Regions from separate parts of the Homo sapiens genome. Here region 2 is linked to region 1. A link means that fine-mapping ties the variant in region 1 to the expression of a gene that starts in the linked region. Tissue or cell type: whole blood. Region 1 holds a variant in brackets; the other region holds the start of a gene. All regions are shown on one strand. Distances are from middle to middle.

Evidence for each region. PIP is the estimated chance that this variant, and not a neighbour inherited with it, causes the effect.
Region 2: it holds the start of MAGEF1, and the variant in region 1 is fine-mapped to the expression of MAGEF1 in whole blood (INTERVAL, PIP 0.95).

The regions. Positions count from the first base shown.
Region 1 is chr3:184,668,816-184,677,599 of GRCh38, reverse strand. No RefSeq gene overlaps it. Among named protein-coding and RNA genes, the nearest start is that of MAGEF1, 39 kb to the left of the region's middle. RefSeq lists an enhancer at 4,312-4,813. The variant G/A (reference allele first, on the strand shown) is at 4,299.
Region 2 is chr3:184,709,328-184,716,219 of GRCh38, reverse strand. MAGEF1 (MAGE family member F1) reads left to right here and starts at 4,156. Exons shown (of 1, transcript NM_022149.5): 1 at 4,156-5,856. The coding sequence starts at 4,399. The coding sequence ends at 5,322. LOC107986163 (a long non-coding RNA gene) reads right to left here and starts at 3,977. Exons shown (of 5, transcript NR_160768.1): 1 at 3,802-3,977; 2 at 46-1,189. RefSeq lists an enhancer at 4,897-4,956.

The DNA.
Region 1 (8,784 bases):
CATGGAGTCCTACAGGCCTGGATGCCACCAAAAGAGGGGGCAGTGGAATGCTACTCCCCCTCTAATCTGGCCACCAACTGCCACCTTATCTGCAGGCCCTGACAAGGGTGACAGAAGCTGATGCCTGGATGTCCAGCAGGCAGGACGATGGGAGAGCGGAGGGGGCAGATGGTAGAGAAGGAGGCAAAAAGCAGCCCCACTCACCCTGGGGAGGGACCGAAATCTCCTGCTTTAAAGCCAGCAGGTTCCGCCTCTGGGTATTCTCTCCAGCACCATTTTTCCTTCTTCACTACAGAGATTTTATTTCTCTCTTGCTTGGTTTGAGAACTGTCCTGATGCAGCGGGCAGATGTCTGAGTACTTGAGGGCTCCGGTGATGACTCCTCAGGGTCTCCGCCTGAAGACTTGGTTCAAAGCTCCCAGCCCTCTAGCAGACCTCACCCCTGCCTCTTACCGTTTCCTCTTTCCTTCCTCCTGCAACTTCCCCTTTCTCTGCCTGCATGCAGCCCCTGTGTCTCCAGCACATTCTCCTTTGGGTCTCCGCGTCTTTGGCACTCACGTTCTGCATGTTACTTATCCTGTCCATCGGCCAACAAGCAATGGGTCATGTCACTTTACTTCCCTGGTTTTCATGTCTATGAAATGGTAAAAGTCATGGATGGTGGTGGGTTGTCTGGTGGTCTTGAGAGTCCCTGCAAGACCTTCTACCCTAAGATTTGAAGTATTTACTTATTGATGCCCTGATGCCTGAGCGGGCATTATGGAAAAAAAAAAAAAGAGGCTGCCCAATACCAGCCTGACCAACATGGAGAAAACCCGTGTCTACTAAAAATGCAAAATTAGCTGGGCATGGTGGCACATGCCTGTAATCCCAGCTACTCAGGAGGCTGAGGCAGGAGAATCGCTTGAACCCGGGAGGTGGAGGTTGCAGTGAGCTGAGATTGCACCACTGCACTTCAGCCCGGGCAACAAGAGCGAAACTCTGTCTCAAAAAAAAAAAAAAAAAAAGAGGCTGCCCAATATGTGCACTGGGACTCTCTACCCTTCTTCATTCGAGGCCAGCCTAGGGCTGAGGAGTGATCCCTTTACAGATTCAAGCTGCCACAGGTCAAATGATAGAATGGCGTGCAGCAGGATGGGGAAGCCCAGTGGGAAACGGGGCAGCAGGATGGGCTGGAACAAGCCTTCAGCCCTACCTCTCTCCTTTGACTACTCCAAATATTCTTGACTTCTGAAAAATTCCCAAATGTTTCCGAGCCAAGAATCCCCCAAAGGAGTGGCTCAGTGTCTGGGGTTACAGAGACTTTGTTACTGCAGCAAAGCATACTACAACCCATTTACTGGTTTAATTTAATTATTTATGATAACACTTCAGAGTAAAAACTACACTTGTCAAAATAAAGGGGACTTTGTGCTGCAGTGACCCAGATTTTATTGTTGCATTACCTAATGCACCGAAACCTGGTAATCGGCACCAGATCTCCCTGCCACTTGGGCAAATCAGCACTGAATGAGGAAGGCTGAAATGGATTACTGCTTCCTGGGGGAATTATTTTCAACGATTCAAACAAAATGGCATTTTGATTTTCTTCCTCCCACTCTAGTTGCATCCCCTTTCCCCCAAATAACCTGGTTTCTACACATATATTTGACTGTTTGCCGTTACCTCTGTGCCCTTAGATCACCTCCCTTTCTTTGCACATACAGTTTCTTCTGCCTAGGATGCCTTCTCCACCACTCACTAGACAAATCATTCCTAACCATGTCGGCACAACAGATTCCCCCATGCATTTGAGAAGAAATTCAGATTTGGCCAGGCACGGTGGCTCACGCCTGTAATCCCAGTATTTTGGGAGGCTGAGGTGAGTGGATTACCTGAGGTCAGGAGTTCAAGACCAGCCTGGCCAACATGGGGAAACCCCGTCTCTACTGAAAATACAAAAATTAGCTGGGCATGATGGTGCATGCCTGTAATCCCAGCTACTTGGGAGGCTGAGACAGGAGAATCGCTTGAACCCAGGGGTCAGAGGTTGCAGTGAGCTGAGATTGTACCACTGCACTCCAGCCTGGGTGACAGAGTGAGACTCTGTCTCAAAAAATAAATAAATAAATAAAAGAAACCCCGCCTCTACTGAAAATACAAAAATTAGCTGGGCATGCTGTCGCGCGCCTGTAATCCCAGCTACTCAGGAGACTGAGGCAGAAGAATTGCTTGAACCCAGGAGGCGGAAGTTGCAGTGAGCTGAGATTGCACCACTGCACTCCAGCCTGGGCGACAGAGCAAAACTCTATCTAAAAAAAAAAAAAAAAAAGAGAGAGATAGAAATTCAGATTCCCGGGAGCCACACTGAAGAACTCCCACCGAGCTTAAATCTTGCCTCTCTATGAAGCCACCCCTGGGGTCCATGCCCTGTCCAGCACTTTCTCCTCCGTGGCTCACCAGCCCTCTGCCCTTTCCCCGACAGCTTCTACTCCTTGACCATAAGTCCTCTGAGGGCAGGGTCTTTCTCTTTTACCTCTGTATCCTCAGCAAGCATAGTGTCTGCCCACGTGGAAGTTCAATAAAAGGTGGCCGGTTGCATGTTGGGCAGTATTTTGAGGAATTAAGACTTTGCTGGAGTTATTCATACTAAGGTCAGAGCACCAACTTCTGTCCTCACCCAGACCCTGAGCCCCTCTCCTTCCCACCTGGAACCTGCAGGTCCACATTCTTCCTTGGGCAGAAATGGCCTTTTTTTTTTTTGGTTGAAAGACCTTTGAGGGTGAGAAATTCCCGGCTACACTGTGTGATGGGGCTTAGGGAGATGTGGATTCACAGCAGGGTACAATGGGCATGTAATCTGGCCTCACCATTCACAGCAAGCCTGTCAGGACCAGCTTCAGATGCTTACTCCTTATTAATGGCCCTCCCCTGAGTCCCAAGGCTAACAGGTTCTCTCAATACCCTACTGCCTCCCTCAGCTCCTGACACTCCATTATTCACAGCAGTGACCGTGGTGATGACAGCCTAGGTGACCCATGGCAAAATCTAGTGATAAGTAAGGAAGGGAAATTCACCTGTGGAAGGCCCCATCCACCCATCCATCCATCCACCCATCCATCCATCCACCCATCCATCCATCCACCCATCCATCCATCCACCCATCCATCCATCCATCCATCCACCCACCCATCCATCCACCCACCCACCCATCCATCCATCCATCCATCCACATAGTCATTTATTGCTAAGTCAGGAGGACACACACACACACACACACACACACACACACACACACACGACAAAGGAGACCTGGTCTCTGCAATTAAGGTGCTTACAATCTAGTTGGGGAGACAGATAGGAGTTACAATTCCAGTGCCCCAATCTCCATCCTCAACAACTCCATCTGTAGTAATTTCCCAGCGTTGGTGCTTTACGTTCACAAAGCACTTCCCGTCTGAGCTGGGGGTCCTCCCAAGGAGAGGAGGAGCACTCCCCAGTTTTGCCATCTCTAAAACCAAGTTGGAAAAGGTGGGCTCTGGGGTCCCTTCCTGCTCCAGTCCAGGTGGGTTTCTTTAGGAAGAACTCCTGGTACAGGAACTTCTTGGGACCCACAGTCTGCAAACTGATGGCTTCCTGGAGGTGTTTCCTAAGCAGCCAGGACTTTTCAAAGAAGACCTGATAAGCCATGAGGTCAGAGACCTTGGGGCTACTCAAACCGATTGCTGCATGCTAGAATTGCTTGAGGGCCTGAGGGGAAGAAATGGCAGTGCCTGGAACCCAACTGAATCAGTAGTTCCTAAAAGTTCCTCTGGTGACCCCAGTGTGCAGCCGGGGTTGAGAGCTGTGGACCTAACAAACTCTTCTATGCTTGAGGGGTCTGAAGCCAGGAGAGGCGTAACTTGAGTAGAGACACATGTAGAAAGTGCAAAGCTCAGAGCACAGATGCAGCACAGCTGAGGCCCTGTTTCCCATGCTGCTGGCTGCTTCTCCATGTCTTGTGAAAGCTTAGTCCTTTCTCACCCCACTTCCAAAGACGACCAGGCCCTGCTGGCCCTGGAGATCCTGCTCTGTCCCCATTCTGAGGACAGTGGCTAGAGCTGCTCCTGACCCCTTGATGTGTCCTTTCCTAATGTCCAGAGGAAGAGGGACAGGTGGGTGGCAGTTGAGGCAGGCCTGGGCCTTGAGTCCAGGGAGCGGCTTTTGCCAGAGAAGATGGTGATCATTTGATTTAAACAAACGGGGCTTGTTCCTGGAAGACGTTTGTCTGCACGGGGCAGCAGCGCCATTCATCATGGCAGCTCTGAGGCTGGGGGCAA[G/A]AAGTCAGCTTTTCAGGGCCCCGGCCCACAGGGAGGAGCTTGGGGGCTGCTCTCCCAGGACCAGCCCCGAGAAGATGTTAGGAAAGCTAATGAGCAATGGGACAGCTGCAGCTTGTTACAGAGCGCCCGGGGCCCATTGTAACTGAGACCTTTAAATATACATTGTAGTCAAATAACCAGCATCCTCCCGCCCAACTGCAGGTCCACCAGGGCCAAGCTGGTCCACGCCCGGCCCACCCAGCTCCTCCCTCCTAGCCTCATCCTTCTGTCTGAGGGAGAAAAACCACTCTCCCACCCTCTTTGACTGGAAAGGAATCGATTATGACTGCAAGAGCTGGGTGTAGCCAGGTTCTCTGACCATCCTCACTCTTACTTCCCTCTAAATGGACACAACTGTAGCTCCATCACTGCCCTTGTCACCCTACCTAAGTCCCACTGGATTTCAGAAAATCAGCATGGCACTGTGGGTCTTTGGAGAACCTCTATAGGACGTATCTCCCACCAAGTCAGAACCTCCTGAAGCCACTGACAGCCAGCCTAAAATGCCTGTTCCGTGGTCCTCCACTCATATGCCTCCTCCAAAGCCCACTTCGGAGATTACCAACTCTGTCGAGCCTTCCCCGGCTTACCAAGGCAGAGCTGGTGGCCTGTCCCCTACACTGAATAAGTGTGTGGGTCATACCTCTTAGCCCAGGTGAAGCCGGGGGCCTGTGTGAGCTCCTTGAGAACAGGGACCAGTTTATATTCCCGTCTGATCCCCAGAGGCCAGCAGGTGCATGACACCTCGAAGACCTCAGGAAATGTGTGCGAAATGGACTCCTGTACTCCATCCATCCCATCCTTAATGGACGCATCCATCCAACACGTGGTAAGTGGGCTCTGCACAAAGGGAACTCTCACCCAGCAGCACACAGTGCTGGGAGCCAGGACCCCAGGTGAGAAGCCACTGGTTGTCCTCAGGGTCATGTCTGTAGGAGAGGTATTTTAGGTCGATTTCTAGGGAAGGAATCCTGAGCAGCGATGTCTAATTTGAAAGTGGAGTAGTAGAGGCAGGAAGAGAAGGCAGGGTTATGAAGCAGAAGGTAGCACTGCTTCTCAACAGAGCATCTGCCCTCACCAGTGAGCCTCCATTTACCACTGTACTCCACTACATCCTGGGGTACTCACCTGCCACGGTGTGCCCCACTTCATCATGGGGTACCTCAGCTCCCCACACTGTACCCCACTTCATCATGGAGCACCTCAGCTCCCCACACCATACTCCATCATGGGTAGCTCAGCTTCCCACACCGTACCCTACTTCATCATGGGCCTCCTCAGCTCCCCAACCATGCCCCACTTCATCATGGGGTACCTCATCTCCCCACACTGTACCCAACTTCATCATGGGGCACCTCAGCTCCCCATACCATACTCCATCATGGGTACCTCAGCTCCCCACACTGTACCCCACTTCATCATGGAGCACCTCAGCTCCCCACACCATACTCCATCATGGGTAGCTCAGCTTCCCACACCATACCCCATTTCATCATGGGGCACCTCAGTTCCCCACACCATACTCCATCATGGGTACCTCAGCTCCCCACACCATACCCCACTTCATCATGGGGCACCTCAGCTCCCCACACCATACACCATCATGGGTACCTCAGCTCCCCACACCGTACACCATTTCATCATGGGGCACCTCAGCTCCCCACACCATACCCCACTTCATCATGGAGCGCCTCAGCTCCCCACACCATATGCCATCATGGGTACCTCAGCTCTCCACACTGTACCCCACTTCATCATGGGGCACCTCAGCTCCCCACACCATACTCCATCATGGGTACCTCAGCTCCCCACACCTTACCCTACTTCATCATGGGCCTCCTCAGCTCCCCAACCATGCCCCACTTCATCATGGGGTACCTCATCTCCCCACACTGTACCCAACTTCATCATGGGGCACCTCAGCTCCCCACACCATACTCCATCATGGGTACCTCAGCTCCCCACACTGTACCCCACTTCATCATGGGGCACCTCAGCTCCCCACACCATACGCCATCATGGGTGCCTCAGCTCCCCACACTGTACCCCACTTCATCATGGGGCACCTCAGCTCCCCACACCATGCCCCACTTCATCATGGGGTACCTCAGCTCCCCACACCATACCCCACTTCATCATGGAGCACCTCAGCTCCCCACACCATACTCCATTCATCATGGGCACCTCAGCTCCCCACACTGTTCCCCATTTCATCATGGGGCATCTCAGCTCCCCACACTGTACCCCACTTCATCATGGGGTAGCTCAGCTCCCCACAGTGTACCCCCTTCATCCCAGGGTACCTCAGCTCCCCACACCATACCCCACTTCATTATGGGGTACCTCAGCTCCCCACACCATACTCCATTCATCATGGGCACCTCCGCTCCCCACACCATTCCCCACTTCATCACGGAGTACCTCAGCTCCCCACTGTGTACCCCCTTCATCCCAGGGTACCTCAGCTGCCCACACCATACCCCACTTCATCATGGGGTAGCTCAGCTCCCCACACCATACCCCCACTTCATCATGGGGTACCTCAGCTCCCCACAGTGTACCTCCTTCATCCCAGGGTACCTCAGCTTCCCACACCATACCCCACTTCATCATGGGGTAGCTCAGCTCCCCACACCATACCCCCACTTCATCATGGGGTAGCTCAGCTCCCCACACTGTACCCCCACTTCATCATGAAGTACCTCAGCTCCCTACACCGTACCCCACTTCATCCCAGGGTCGCTCAGCTCCCCACAGTGTACCCCAATTCATCCCAGGGCCGCTCAGCTCCCCACGGTGTACCTCACTGCATTGCAGTGCCAGTCAGCATACCACCTCATACTTCAGCATAAGTGCCTGAGAGGTGCCGTGTCCGGCGTGTGGCATGCTCTGTGAGGCTGTGCCGTGGGCAGCAGAGGAGGTCTGTCTCTAAGCCTGCTGGTTGGGAGAGGAAGAGAGGAGAGATGAGGGACCTCCGAGCAAGTGGACAGTAGGAATTTCTCTGCTGCAGATAAGAGTCTTTCCCGTCACCTGTACCAGCCCCAATGATATGGGCCAGGTGTCAGACCTCACTGATGTGGACATCCCAAACCAAGTGGTTGTGCACACGCATGTATTTGTGCATGTGAGAGAGAGAGAGAATGTGTGTGTGTGTGTGTGTGTGTGTGTGTGTGTGTGTGTGTGTGTGTGTGTGAAATGACATCCCCTGAACATTGGTTAGTTTGTACAGGCATTGTGCTGGGTGTTTTATAAACATCAACACATTCCATCTTTATCAACTCCTAGGGGGATGGTATAATTGAATCCATTTTACAGGTAGGGAAACTTGAGACTTATCCAGGATCACTTAGCTTATAAATTGTGGAGCTGGAATTTGAACACTGCTTTCTCCGACTCAAAAGTCTGTTACCCCGTGTCATAGATAGCCCAAAGATCATTATCTTGCTTGTGCTGACAGTGGGGAAGGCAGCACAAATCAGATGCAGCCAGGCCTGCCGGCCTCTGGTTAAAATTGGTTACAGGCATTCTGCCCCAGGGATAATTCAGAGGAGTCGAAGTTGACCGGCTCTCCCTGTATACCAGGCTTAGTACGGAGAGGCTTCACCTCCCTAAGGCGACCAGCAGCAAGTTGACTTCTCCAGGCAGCAGGCAGACTTCCTGCACACCTCACACAGGTGTGTAGTGTCCAGGTGCCTTCCTCCCCAGCCAAACCGGGCTCCTCCCAAGCCTGGACACCAAGTCAGCCCCTTCAGCCCCTCCCCACACCCCCGTGGCCTTGACCTGCCATTGGGTTTGCAATGAAGGCCCAAGTCCAGTCCCTCCTGCCATCTTTTGCATCCCTGCTTCCTGGCCTTAGAACCCCACAGAAGCAAAGTGCATGAGGTTCAGGGTCATGCTGTCGAAGACCTCCTCTCTCTTCCCCTGGCTCCTTCAACACTTGCAACATTAGATAGTTCAGAGCACGGACTGGTCTTCTATAGCTAAGAAAACTCTGCAGAATCTAGCACAGTGCCTGGTACACAGGGCTGATGATGCATCTGTGTAAGTTGCTTATAATATAGAGGCTGTCAGCCAAGTGGCCAGGTAGGGGTTGAACTCCCCCCTCCCACAGAGATATTGTTTGCTAGCTAAGCCCTGCACCCAGGAGACTGTATCTGCCTGGGAAAGAGGTAGTGTTTGTTCTCTGATTCACGCAAAGGCGCTATGTGTATGCTGGTGCTGAAGTACTGTACCTCGTTGAACAAACGAATGGTGAATAAGTCCAACCTATTCTCTAAACCTTAGCCATAGCAGGTGGGGATAGACCTGGGCGCTTGGGCTCACTCCCGTTCCCTCCTCCACTTCTATTTCTGTATCTCCCTTTCCCATCTTCACTCTGTGCTCTGGGTAGATAGGGTTCTGTTTTTTTGAGATGGAGTTTCGCTCTTGTCGCCCAGACTGGAGTGCA
Region 2 (6,892 bases), 40 kb before region 1:
AGGTTCAGCACCCTGTGCAAGGTCACAGAATGGGCGAGTACTGACCTGGTTCAGCACTTTGTCCCAGGAAACCTCCTCCGCGTCTCCACAGAGTGCTGGGCATTTCAGGACAGCTCAGCTGCAATTCTGCTTTTCCAGTGGAACATCCTTCTCTCTTCCACGTATGAAACTTTACGAAGCACTGTGGGCTTTTGAAGACTCTAGTCTAGGCTAAGAAGGATCCTCTCTCAAGAAGATTCCAACCCAATAGTCATTAAAGCATATGTTTCGTCATCTCCCAAACCAAAGGCATATATCTTTTGTCCCTTTTAAAAGTTTAGGTAAGGAATGTGTTAAAAGTCTGCCTGTTGCCGGAAATGGTGGCTCATGCCGGTAATCCCAGCACTTTGGGAGGCCGAGGCAGGCGGATCACGAGGTCAGGAGATCGTGACCATCCTGGCTAACACGGTGAAACCCCATCTCTACTAAAAAAAAAAATACAAAAAATTAGCTGCATGGTGGCAGACGCCTGTAGTCCCAGCTACTCGGGAGGCTGAGGCAGGAGAATGGCGTGAACGTGGGAGACGGAGCTTGCAGTGAGCCGAGATGCGCCACTGCACTCCAGCCTGGGCGACAGAGTGAGACTTCGTCTCAAAAAAAAAAAAAAAAAAAAAAAAAAATTCTGTGTGTCCGGTTACATGGTGGACATAACAAAAAAAAAAATGGGAAAAATTATTGTTTGCATTCCTTCCACTGTAACATGGTAACATCTAGCGATCGGCAAGTGGTAATGCAGAGTCCATTCACCTTTCTTACTCCTCGCCTCCTCCCATACCTAAAGGGCTGTTCATTTTTTAAAATCCTTTTTTATTTTTATAAATTTTGAGGTATGATTCATACACTATGAAATGCATACCTGGCTGGGCATGGTGGCTTACACCTGTAATCCCAGCATTTTGGGAGGCTGAGGCAGGCAGATCACTTGAGGTCAGGAGTTTGAGACCAGCTTGGCCAACATGGTGAAACCCCGTCTCTGTTAAAAATACAAAAATCAGCCAGGTGTGGTGGCAGGTGCCTGTAATCCCAGCTACTTGGAAGGCTGAGGCAAGAGAAGCACTTGAACCTGGAGGCAAGGGTTGCAGTGGCAGGGGTTGCAGTGAGCTGAGATTGTGCCATTGCACCACTCCAGCCTGGGTAACAGAGTGAGACCCTGTCGCAAAGAAAAGAAAAGAAAAGAAAAGAAATGCATAGCTATTAAGCGTACAGTTTCACAAGTTTTGACAAATGTATACCTACATCCAAATCAAGACACAGAACGTTGCCATCACCACTGAAAGTTCCTGGATACCCCTTTCCAGTCAACACCACCCCAGGCCTCCACTGTCCTAATTTCTATCACCATAGATTAGCTTATCCTGCCTCGAACATCAGATAAATGGAATCATATTATACGTATAATCTTTTGTATCTTTCATCTGTCACTCAACATATCTGCCAGACTCATTCACATTGTGTCAGTAGTTTGTTCCTTCTTATGAGTAGTATCGTCATTTATTCAGTTCTTAAAATCCAGCCCTATTACCACAGATTTGTCCCTCAAAATTCTTTTCATTTAATATATCTTCTGCATGCTCCTTTCCGTGCATGTATCTCCTGCATATCTCCCTGGCAATCCTTGTAGTGAGGAAAATATGTAAGTGGACTATTTTATCTCTAGCACTGTCCTTTTAGGTATGGGTGGCTCTCTCTACCTTCAGGAAAAACAGATAACCAGGCAGTCTTGCTTCAGAGTTTACAGATCTGGGTTTTCATTTCTTGTCTAGCACTTAACAGATGGGTGGTTCAGGGCAGGTGATTTAACCTCTCTGTGACTGTTTTCCCATTTGTAAATGTGGATAATAATACCTTCTTAATAGGGATTTGTGAGGACAAAATTATATTGTACATAGAATGTTTGGCACAATGAAAACTAATAATAGCCTCAAGCTAGGCTATAATAAACATCCTCTCCTGCTTCATTCACATACTTCCAGGTTTGTAAGTCATATGATACAAGTGGGTATAAATTTTCAAAAGTTTTTAAAAGGAAGATTTCATATTTAGATTTAGAAAAGTCTATCAGATATTTACTTAAAATAAGTAACTGTTATTTCCTAGGGAAAAAAGTAAAGCCTTCTGTCATTTATTCATTGGCAATTATATATCGAGTATTGACTAAGAGAAGCTCTTCAAAAGAGTTAAAAACATAGCCCTAGCTTTTAGGATGTTTGGTTTGGGGAGGGTAATAAGATAAGCACAACAAATTATAATACAAAATATAGTAAATGATAATAATAATAATTAACATCTATGAATGTAGTGGTTAAGAGCACAGTCTCTGGAGTCATACTATATGGGTTCACATCCCAGCTGTGTGATGTTGGGCAAGTTACTTAACCTCCTTGTGTGTAACCTCACCTGGAAAATGGGGCTAATACCACTTACCTAGCAGGGCTACAGTATCAGAAAAAAGTGGCCCAGGGTGTTTGAGCATCCTGTACAAGGTCACAGAATGGGTGAGTACTGACCCGGTTCAGTGCTATGTCCCAGGACACCTCCTCCGCATCTCCACAGAGTGCTAGGCATTCCAGGACAGTTCATCTTGCAATTCTAATATTGTATATTGCATATAAAAATATGCATTAATTAACAGCTAACATGTATTGAATATCAATATGTGCCAAGCACTGTGTTAAATGCTTATGTGCATTACTTCACATAATCTCCACAATGCTGTTACTACTATTATACTCATTTTACTGATAAGGTAACAGAAGGGCAGAAGTTTAGGTAACTTGCCCAAGATTACATAGCTAGTAAGTAGCAAACTGTGTCACAGAAAAGATACAATCATCTATAAAATGGGGATGATGGTATTAGTACCTACATTAGTGAGAATCTGATGAATTAATATTTGAAAAGTGATTAGAACGGAGCCTGGCACCTAATAAAGCCTATATATGTGGATGTTAACAATTGCTAAGGTGATTCAGAGATGACAGTAAATAACTTCTATGCGTGGTGACTAAGGAAGGCTTGGGAAGGTGATGTTTAAACTGGGCCCTGAATAGTGGACAGGATTTGGAGAAATGGAGGTGATAGAGAGGGCATTTCTGACAGGGAAGGAAGGGAGGGAGGGAGGGAAGAAGGAAGGAAGGAAGGAAGGAAAGAAGGAAGGAAGGAAGGAAGGAAAGAAGGAAGGAAGGAAGGCAGGAAGGGAAGGAGGGAAGGGAGGGAGGAAGGAAGGAAGGAGGGAAGGAAAGAAGGAAGGAAGGAGCAAGAAGCAGAAGAAAGCTCAGAGTGTGTAAAAAGAGAAAAAGAAAAGAAATACATGGGAGTAGTCAAATTTGACTTGCGCAAAAAAAAAAAAAAAAAAGAACAAACTTCCCCTTTCTTCCAACCAGTCCCTATTCCTGCTGTACTTCTCAGTATTTTCCTCTTATCCCCATGGAATCTGCTGTCCTTACTCCCTCATCATAATGATCCATTGAATATTTATTGAGTTCCTCTCCGTGTCAGGCACTGCTCTAGGCACCGAGGATACAACCCAGTAAATAGGCCGGGTCCCAGTTCCTAGTTTGCACTATAATAATCCTCCAAACTGGATTCTAGCTTTTAGCCGGCCGAACTCCAATCTATCTTCCACAATACCGCCAGAACCGAAGACACAGATCTGGTCTGGACACTCACTTGCTTAAATCCCGCTGCAGTATTTTCTCTTTACGTCCAGAATAAATTTCAGTCTCCCTAGCATCCTTTACTAATTGGTTCGCACAGTCTTACCTCGCAGCCTTCACCGTGCACTCTGCACAAGAGCCCCGGTAAAGCACTGAAAATCCCAGATACACACACTCACAAATAGGCACTTGCAGAAAGAACGTGGGGGGCACTCCATCCCTATTTCATCTCTTGTACACCGAAACATTCCCCAGTCTGCATGCCTTGGATGGGAGAGTCCTGGTTACATTCCCCCGCCCCCGACTTTTCAAGCCTAAAATCCGTCACAGGGCGCACCCCCGTCCCCACCCTCCAGGGCATTTCCACTTATAGCAGCCTGGGCACACCCCCAACCCAGAAGGGACCGGAAAAGGAGGGGCTGCGCGCGGCACTAGGGTCGCCGTCCTGGCTGAGGTGGCCGGAAGTGGCCCCTCGCGCGGGCGCGGACTGAGGCTGCGCGCCGCAGGTTCCGGCTGCTGGCGGCGTTGCGGCCGCAGGTTTGACTCCCGTGCGGTGCGGCCCAGCAGCCACAAAGCTCCCGCTGCCATTGCTCCTTGTACTCCCGCCGTCACTGCCGCTGTCCAACCCCTCCCCCGGGGCTTGCGCGGCGGCTCCCACACCCCTCGGCCCGTGTACGCGCTCTGCACCTGCCTGCCCGAAAACATGTTGCAGACACCAGAGAGCAGGGGGCTCCCGGTCCCGCAGGCCGAGGGGGAGAAGGATGGCGGCCATGATGGTGAGACCCGGGCCCCGACCGCCTCGCAGGAGCGCCCCAAGGAGGAGCTTGGCGCCGGGAGGGAGGAGGGGGCTGCGGAGCCCGCCCTCACCCGGAAAGGCGCGAGGGCCTTGGCGGCCAAAGCCTTGGCAAGGCGCAGGGCCTACCGCCGGCTGAATCGGACGGTGGCGGAGTTGGTGCAGTTCCTCCTGGTGAAAGACAAGAAGAAGAGTCCCATCACACGCTCGGAGATGGTGAAATACGTTATTGGAGACTTGAAGATTCTGTTCCCGGACATCATCGCAAGGGCCGCAGAGCATCTGCGGTATGTCTTTGGTTTTGAGCTGAAACAGTTTGACCGCAAGCACCACACTTACATCCTGATCAACAAACTAAAACCTCTGGAGGAGGAGGAGGAGGAGGATCTGGGAGGAGATGGCCCCAGATTGGGTCTGTTAATGATGATCCTGGGCCTTATCTATATGAGAGGTAATAGCGCCAGGGAGGCCCAGGTCTGGGAGATGCTGCGTCGGTTGGGGGTGCAACCCTCAAAGTATCATTTCCTCTTTGGGTATCCGAAGAGGCTTATTATGGAAGATTTTGTGCAGCAGCGATATCTCAGTTACAGGCGGGTGCCTCACACCAATCCACCAGAATATGAATTCTCTTGGGGTCCCCGAAGCAACCTGGAAATCAGCAAGATGGAAGTCCTGGGGTTCGTGGCCAAACTGCATAAGAAGGAACCGCAGCACTGGCCAGTGCAGTACCGTGAGGCCCTAGCAGACGAGGCCGACAGGGCCAGAGCCAAGGCCAGAGCTGAAGCCAGTATGAGGGCCAGGGCCAGTGCTAGGGCCGGCATCCACCTCTGGTGAGGGTTGGTGAAAAGTTGGCCAGTGGGTCCCCGTGAGGACGAACTACTGTCCTGAGTCATAAGTAATATGGGTGGGGCGAGGGTCTTATTTCTGTAGAAATCGTGTGACTTTAAGGATTTAGATTTTGTATCTTATGTTTTGTAACATTTAATAATTACTGTTAAAATGCTGTTTGTAAATGAGATTGGTCTACTTTTTCCTGTAGGATTTTATTGTAGAGTTTTGCTGGTTTTGTAAAATGGATGGAAGAACTTTGTATTTATACTGTGATTTTGAACAGATTATGCAACATTGGAAGGAAGGCTGTACTTTGATGGTTTGAAGGAACTCAGCAGTATGATGATCTGGTTCCAGGGGAAAAAAATAGCTGGTTGGTGTCTAGCCCCCCAACACTTTTGTCTGTTGTGTATAAAAGAAGAAAGACTGGCATGTACCTTCATTTGCTTAGCTATTTGAGTATCTAGAGAAAAATTAAAATGCAATGAGTTAGCAGTATACCCTGGCACACTTAATAAATTAAACATTTGTGGAGCATCTTGTTTTCTGTGATGCACTGTGTGGGCACTTGGGGATAGAATACTAAACAAGATAAAGGTCCTACTTTTTTTCAGAATTGAAGAGTAAGTAAATAAACAAGAAATTAGCAGTGCAATGAGTTGAAGTCTACAAAGGGATACTTAACCCAGCTGGGATGATTGAGTGAGGTTTGCTGTAATCCCAGCACTTTGGGAGGCCGAGGCGGACTGATCACCGGAGTCAGGAGTTCAAGACCAGCCTGGCCAACATGGTGAAACCCTGTTTCTACTAAAATTACAAAAATTAACCAGGCGTGGTGGCACACACCTGTAATCCCAGCTACTTGGGAGGCCAAGGCACAAGAATCTCTTGAATCTAGGAGACGGAGGTTGCAGTGAGCCGAGATCATACCACTGCACTCCAGCTTGGGAGACAGAGCAAGACCCCGTCTCAGAAAAAAATAAGAAATAAAAATAATGATTTCAGATCACAGCTACTCCTCAGTAATGTGAGCAGACTTGATACATGGCAGATCTGGGAAATACTCTACCTTTGCCAGTGCTGTCTTTCCAGACCAGATTGTTAACAGTGCACAAAGATGTTGACTGTCAACTTTTTGGCCCTTTCTGTCTCCTTTTCAACCTCTACAGGGTTCCCTCCTCTACCAAAGCCCTCAGAGATCAAATAATGTAACACCTCTGGAATATTATGTAGTGTGGATGAAGGGTACCTAAATCTACTACTACCAAGAAGTTCCACTTCAAGATTTCTCCTCTGGCACCAGGAAGCCCAGTTCCCCCTTCCATGTTTCTGCCTGCTGCTTTCCACCTGCCACCTCCCATTTACAGGAGACTTGTGAGGTATCCCTCCCCTTCATGTTATCCGTGGAGAGTCATCTGTAAGGAGCTCTGGCTTCTTCAATGCCCACCACCTTCTGCGTGAGGGTAAATCCTGTAGAAAGGGTACTTAGAATAATAGGGAATTTAGAGAAGTGATTCCCAAACCAGAGAGTGGGTGAGGGTCGGGGGCAGGGTGGGCGGATGGTGAAACTTCC